Linked DNA regions of Homo sapiens. The gene in region 2 interacts genetically with the main gene of each other region. Each region holds a gene or a part of one and is shown on either strand. Other genes may lie near its edges.

Region 1 (3,813 bases), on a different chromosome or scaffold from region 2:
TGGGCAAATGGGAACTTCCAGAAGGCGGAAGAAGGCCCGGGTATAGGATATGGTAGCAGCATGAGGCAAAGGAAGGAAATTTGAATAGAGGAGAGTTGGCACAGAATGTGGAGCCAGGGACAGTGGCATCTAGGTCTTGTCCAGGGAGACTTGCATCAGGGCAGGTTCCAGGTTGGTAGGCCCAGGGCAGCTGTCCAGGCCCAGAGAGTGCCTGAGCACAGTCTCTCCAGACGCTGGGTCTCAGGCCTGTAAAACGGATAGTCTCTTGAGTCCTCTCCAGCTCTGACCTAGAAGATGGGTGTCTAGGGAGAGATGCAGGAACGAACCTGTGGCCTGGCTAGGCCTGTCAACAACTGGGAGGGCAAGTTGGGGCCCTTGTGAGTCCAGGATGTTGGCAGAGGCTAGGGCAGTGGTTGAATAGGCAAGGGCTAACAGGGCGGGAGGCAGCGCTCGGCTCACCAATGCGCACAGAATGGGTGACTTCCTGCAGCCGGACCAGCAGAGCGTGCCCGAGCTGGCGCACGCGTTCCAGGTCGTCCTTCATGGAGTAGCTCAGGTCCATAAGGTAGTACAGGTCCACCGGGTATCCCTCAGCACGAAGGAAGCGGACCTGGAGCTGCTGGGGCTCCCCTAGGGGGTGGGCGGCGGGCGGGTCAGCAGAGCGCATTGGAACGCCAGCCTAGACCTCTGGCCTGGCCCCGCCTCCCCTAACTCACCAGGCCGCAGCGTGACCCGGACCCGCTGCGGCGCCAGCTGGGTGGCACCCTCTCCGCGGGCGCCCTGGCTGAGCGGCTGGTCCTGCAGCACCTCCTGCTGGCCGCGGGGCTCCTCCAGCTCCTCCAGCGGGCAGCCTCGAGCCAGCAGCTCCTCTCGTCGGGCGCAGCGCCGCGCCTCCGCCTCTCCCGACGCGGTGAAGTTCTGCTCAGCAAGAAAAGGCGCGTCGGGACCCGGTCCTGCATAGGCCCTGGGCCCCGCTCCCAAAAACACCCTGCAAACCCGGCCACCTCTAATGCCCCCACCTCCAGTCCACTCCTTGAGTCCCTGATTCCCTCCCCTCTTCCTCGCCACAGCTACCCTTGAACTCCGGTCTTTTTTGTTGTTTTGTTTTGTTTTTGAGACGGAGTCTCACTCTGTCACCCAGGCTGGAGTGCTGCGGTGCTATCTCCGCTCACTGCAACCTCCACCTCCCGGGTTCAAGTGATTCTCGTACCTCAGCCTCCCGGTAGCTGGGACTACAGGCATGTGCCACCACGCCCAGGTTTTTTGTATTTTTAGTAGAGACGGGATTTCCCCATATAGGTCAGGCTGGTCTCAAACTTTTGACCTCAAGTGCGCCCACCTCAGCCTCCCAAAGTGCTGGGATTACAGACGTGAACCACCACGCCTTTTTTTTTTTTCCTACTGTAAAGACAGGGTCTTGCTTTTTTGCCCAGTCTTGTTTCGAACTCCTGGCCCCAAGAAATCCTCCTGCCCCAGCCTCCCAAAGTACTGGGATTACAGGCATGAACCGCCACCGGTGGAACTCTGGTCCTTTCTTCCTTGTCAGAGCCCCACTTCCTATAGCAGTCCCCCACCCCTCCCCTATCTCAACTCCCCCTTGCCCCAGCCACCTACCCCTCTCCTCCCCAATAGAGTCACAGACTTCCTGTTGAGATCTTAGAGACTTCACTACCACAAAAAAACAGGGGCCTTGCCTCCTAGGCCAACCTCCCCAGCAAGCTCACACCAAAATGGGAAGGTGGTCAGACTAAGACCCACAGCTCCTTGGAAAGGAAAGGATAAGAACAGAAGAGGAGGCGTCCTCCCCACCAATATGTCTGGTATCCCTGGGACTGGTTGGGAAGCCACAGGGGAAGGAAATGGTTAGAGCGGCTTCTCAGCTGGCCCTAGGTGTCAGGAGACTGGAGAAGCCAGACACAGACCTGACCATCTCAAGAGCGCCAGCTCCCCAGCTCCAGCCTGGCACCTCTGCCTCTCTGCCTTGTGCAGACTCAGTATCTACCCTTCTTGTCCAGTCAGATTCACTGTGTGCCTTTCTCCTGGGTCCCTGTGTGCCTTTCTCCTGGGTCCTCTAAGCATCTGTAGCTCTGCTTCCATGTGAATTTGCCCCCATCTCTTATCTGGGCTCCCACACTGATCTAACCCTCCATCTTACACTGAGAGAGGCAGACCTGCCCCCATCCCAGCTTGGGCACCCCTCCTGCTCTGCTGCTCCATGAGTTCTGTCTCTTTAAAGCATAAACAAACAACAGCTTTGTTTGAAGAGCCAGGGAGACACCTGCTCCCTAGCATCCTTCTTGGCCACTTAGGTAGCTCAAGCCTTTCCAGTCCCCCTCAAGCCCATATGCTTCCACCCCTTCCCTTTCTACCTGTCCAGTCATAGGCTACTACACACCCAGGAACAGAATGCCTCCACCCAAAACACAGACTTAGAAATCTAACCACACACTTGCTGCTATGGACTGAACTCTGCACCCCTACCCCTCCCCACCCCCACCCCATCCTCTGTTGAAGCCCTAACCCTCCATGTGATGGTATTTGGAGATGGAGCCTTTGGGAGGTACCTAGGCTTAGATGAGGGCCTAAGGGTGGAACCCTCATGATGGAATTAGTGCGCTTACAAGAAGAGAGGCAGTTCCCACCCCCATCCCCCAACCCCATCCCCACTATGTGAGGACACAGCGAGAAGGTAGCCAGTCTGCAAGCAAGGAAGAGGGCCCTAACTGAGGAACCAAATCAGCCAGCACTTTGATCTTGGACTTCCCAGCTTCCAACATTAGGAGAAATGAATTCCTGTTGCTTAAACCACCCAGCTTATGGTATTTTGTTATGGCAGCCCGCACTGGGTAGTACCTTTCTCCCATGTTTACATACACAACAGCTCCCTCTACCTATACACAAGCATGAATTCCCACAAGCACATACTTTCTCCCAATTCATGGTCACAAATTCTCTCCATATATACACAAGCAAATGGATACAGACATAATCCTAAGTGCACAAGAAACTTGCATGCATGTGTATGCACACACGTATATCCACACACAGGAGTCCTATGTGCACAAACTCAGTCACACATGAGACTGTGGAGTGTTCCCAGAAAATCATACATGTGCCCACACAATCACACACATATATCCAGGCTGCACATACATATACACATACACATACACATACACATGGTTCAAAGACCATAGGCCCATCTTTACCAGTTGCTTGCACCATGCACAGCTGGGGTGTGAGAGGATGCACTTCTGGCAGGAGGGGGCTGGCTGGCAGGACCCCAGCATGGACAGGTGAGGATTCCGCCATTCTGTGGCATCCCCTGTGGATGGGATCTTGGCGTCCAATTCACTCTCACCTCTGCTCAGGACCAGCAGCAAAACAAGGACCATTGGCAAAGCCACCATGCCCTGTAATAGGATATAAAGGGGGACATGTGGGTCCTCAGGGAGGACTCTCAAACTCTCAGTCCTCTAAACTTAGCTTGTGGTTATCACTCTCAAAACTCTGCCCCAACACTTTATCTCCCCTCATAGTTTCACTTCCCCTGTGGATTCAGCAGTTTCTTCAAAATAATGGGAAGGAGCAGGTATCACGCAAAGGTAGGGGCCTCCGGACGTGGTGGCTCATGCCTGTTATCTCAGCACTTTAGGAAGCCAAGGTGGGTGGATCACCTGAGCTCAGGAATTCGAAACCAGCCTAGTCAACATGGCGAAACCCCATCTCTACTAAAAATACAAAAATTAGTCAGGCATGGTGGCGTGCACCTGTAATCCCAGTTACTCAGGAAGCTGAGGCAAGAGAATTGCT
Region 2 (3,813 bases):
TGTGGACAGCAAACCAGTCTGCACCGCAGACCTATGAAAGTCCTACTGTGGAGACACAGCCTGAAAAATGCCAATGCCAAGTCCTTCTGGAGTGAGAGGACGCCAAAATAAAAGGACTTAGTACAGAGGTCATTTAAAATAATACACTGTAATCAAGTAGCTATGTGATAGGACATTTAAAAATCTCAGTTGAGAAGAAAGATGGAACTAATTTTCTCTCTAGTACAAAACTGGTGACTAATGTTCAGCTGGAAATGTCCAAACAGATTTAGGGACATTAATAACCAAAAATTATGTTTGTGCATTTATTGAATAGGAATTAAATGACTTGCCTTGAGGACAAAGCGACTGTGGCAGAGGAGAAGTCAGGGCTCACATCATCTCAGGCCTTTGATTCCGGTCCCCTGGGCCCTTGCCTTGTGTGAGACCGCTGGCCCTTTGGTGATCATGGGGCCAGGCCTCTGCGTACCACCTCCACCGATCCCCGTGCAGCTGCCTTGGCGGCATCATGCTCCCCACCGTAAAGACTTGGGCTCACACTGGGCCAGGGGAAGTCCCTTGCCTTGTCCAGAGCCTCAGTCTCATGGGCCCCCATCTGATCCCAGTCATTCTGCTCCTAAGTCCTTTCCCTGAGCCCCAGGCTGTGTCACCTCCCTTGAAAATAAAGCCCCGTGGCTTCCACTTGCTGCTGGTATTCAGACAGAGTAAAATCATGGCAGGGAAGGCCTCCGCCACTTGGCCTCCTCCACTGCTACCTGGACAGGCTCCTACTCAGTTCTATTACCTTCATCCATCCATCTCTCCATGTCACATACATGCACAGAGTGAGCTCTGAGCTCCAGGCATTGTGGGACTGGCTGTCCATCCCTGGGAGCTGACGACAGAGTCATGTACCTGCCCAGGGCGCTCACACCAAATGCTATTGTTCCCATGCTAGCCCTTCCATTGGATCAAATGTAGTGTAGCTGGCACCCAGACCTGGGATCCAAACAAGTTTTCCTATCAATTCTTTACTCTCCACCCAACAAACACTAACATCAAAGCACCTGCCCAAAACACGTTTGGTTTTTAGCACATAACTAAGAATCTTTTTTTTTTCTTCAAACATTTCCCTACTCCCTGCTGGACTTTATATTTGTTTTTGGGAGAAAGATTTCTCTGCCCCTTTTGTTACTTGTTACAATATACATAATGGACCGGATTAACTGAACATTCTTGATTGCATTTGAAAGATATTTTTAAAAACAGATGCCCTTTTAAAATATTTTATCTGGCCCCTATTTCATTGGGAATCAATATAAAAGGATATGTTTATTTTTCTGAAATATATTGTTAAGAATTTGTATTTCTTAAGCTCAATCAAAGCCTCTGAAGTATTCATACAGTTGAAAGAAAGATGTGGGGCCCACATTTCTGGCTGTGAGCAGGGTGTTGTTAACAGTTCAAAGGCTGGGCACCACATCAATACTCCCCACATGGAACACCTGGACAGGGCAGACCATGATGGGTATGACTGGGAAAACAGCAGCCAGAGCCCAGGGAAGAAAAGGAGGCTGCCTTCATAATCCCCAAACCAGGGGTCTCCTAGCCCACATCCAGCAGCGAACGACCCCGCAACTGCTCATCTGTGTCTGCTCAAGGATTGGTAACATTCGACCAACTCTTATTGCCTCAGGTATGGCTGATCTAAAATCCCAGCCATCTAAAATATCATCCAGCACTCTGCTTTTGGTGAAAAAAAAAAATCCTAGTGACAAAATAATGAGAAGTTAATCCTCCAAAATAAACTCTTGATATGTCTAGGGCCAGTACCTAAAATTGGCAGCACGCTACATGTACCCACGGGCCTCTCCTCACTCTCTCTAGATTTGGTGTCCAGAGCAGAGAGACACGTGGCCCAAATGCTGAGCCAAGAAACAGGAGGCCTCCCTGCCTGGGATCCAGCCTTGTACGGAGTCAGCAGCCCTTCCTGCCCAGTGGTGGGGAAGGGGTGAAATCGGGCGGAAGTGCAGCAGCTGTGAGGGGCCCAGAGATGGCCCAGGACAGCCCCTTTCTTTGGATAAGCAAAGTGAAGTTCTGAGAGTTTCTAGGGTAGGCCACAGCTTCCTAGCTTTATGTTCTGGTCTAGAAGCTGCTCTCTTACCCTGATTCCAGACACCTGATTCTAGGCCACACTGCTTCTCAGGGGTGGGTTTCGTTTGCTTTTGCAGTGCCTCACACCCAGCCTGGTTTAATTCAGGCCACGAGCCTGGTTAATGTGCACAGCAAGTTGCATTTCTGCCTCATCGATCACTGGAGTCAATGGTGCATATTGAAGAATGAATGCCTTCATGGTAAGTGATAACATTATGGGATTAAAATACTTAATCACGCAAAATTTACATAATAATCATTTAGATTGCCATGCAAAAATTATCTGGCATGCCACACCACACTGATTTGACCTACTGATCTGGATGATGCACAAAAGGTATCTATCTATTTGTATGGTTTTTGGCTTGGTTCATGTATTCATTCAAACTTCATTGATTCTTTTTTTTTCCATGACAGGGTCTTTCTCTGTCAACCAGGCTGGAGTGCAGTTGTGTGAACATGGCTCACTGCAGCCCTGACCTCCCAGGCTCAGATGTTTCTCTCACCTCAGCCTCCTGAGTAGCTGGGACTACAGGTGTGCACCACCATGCCCATCTAATTTTTTTGTGTTTTTGGTACAGAGTTCCATCATGTTGCCTATGCCGGTCTGGAATTCCTGGCCTCAAGTGATCTGCGTGCTTCAGCCTCCCAAAGTGCTGGGATTACAGGTGTGAACCATTGCACCCGGCCTCAAACTTCACTGATTCTTACATGTGCAATGCACAGCATTAGATGTTGTAGGGGAAAGATAACCACAGTTTACTGCATACCAGCCAAGCGGCCTGTCAATTATATGTATCCTATGTCCCCCTCACAGCAGCAGCCCTGGGAAGTAGCGATGATTACTCCCATTCTAGAGAACACTGAAGCCTGCATTTTGAGTCATTTAGCCAAGGTCACACCAGAGTCAGAACTTGACTGACTGAACCCAAAGTACATGCTCTCAGAGACACACCCTCCACCCTTAAAGCACTGGCTGCCTAGTGGAGGAGATAAACTACTTGAGCAAGTGAACTGGAAATCAAAGTCAAGTCCAGTAAGTGCTTTAGGACAGGCAGAAATAACGTTCTATGGAACCAAGAGTAAGAGAGATTCCTCTCAGGTAGGGGAGCCAGGAAGGCTTTGTGGAGACTGAGACTTTTGAGGTGGGCCTTGAGGTATGGGTAGGAGTTTCTAAGATGGAAATAAAGGGGAAGGAGGCTGAGAGCAGGGAGCTGAGTCTTGGGATCTGGAAAGCTTTGGGAGCTTTATGGAAGACAAAGCCATTGGGTCAGTAGGAAGAAAGCCAAAAGAAAAACTAGAGATGTTCTTAGAACTGTAGTTTTCTTCCCAAGTGATATTCAAATATTAAGAAGGCCAGTCTTTACCCTAATGGATACATTCATTCCTGCTTTGGCAACAGAACTTCTGTGAGGGTGACTCAAATGTTATAAATGAAAAAGACTTGTCTAGCAAGGGAATACGGGGCAGCTTCGATCCTGTTCCCTCCCTGCTCCCAAGCCTGCCTCCCTGGGAGGTCACTTGGGGTGTCTCTGGTCCAAGCCAGCAGTCATTTTAGCAGGTGAGTCCAGCATCTCCAGAAGGGCTGGCCACATGAGCCCTGGATGGACCATGCCCATCCACATCGGCAAAAATGTGTGGCTGCCTATCAACCATACAACATCCACGCAACAGACACAC

The links.
Region 1: changes in PTPRE (region 2) and ITGB7 together harm fitness more than expected from each alone (negative genetic interaction), as found in Homo sapiens cells (one large-scale study listed by BioGRID).

Annotation. Positions count from the first base shown.
Region 1 is NC_000012.12:53,197,034-53,200,846, forward strand, and holds part of ITGB7 (integrin beta-7 isoform a precursor), read right to left. Parts: intron 3,421-3,813; exon of another isoform or gene 3,414-3,420; 5' UTR 3,411-3,413; coding exon 3,210-3,410; intron 919-3,209; coding exon 717-918; intron 631-716; coding exon 460-630; intron 1-459. UniProt on the Homo sapiens protein: Integrin ITGA4/ITGB7 (alpha-4/beta-7) (Peyer patches-specific homing receptor LPAM-1) is an adhesion molecule that mediates lymphocyte migration and homing to gut-associated lymphoid tissue (GALT).
Region 2 is NC_000010.11:127,909,812-127,913,624, reverse strand, and holds part of PTPRE (receptor-type tyrosine-protein phosphatase epsilon isoform 1 precursor), read right to left. Parts: intron 1-3,813. UniProt on the Homo sapiens protein: Isoform 1 plays a critical role in signaling transduction pathways and phosphoprotein network topology in red blood cells. May play a role in osteoclast formation and function.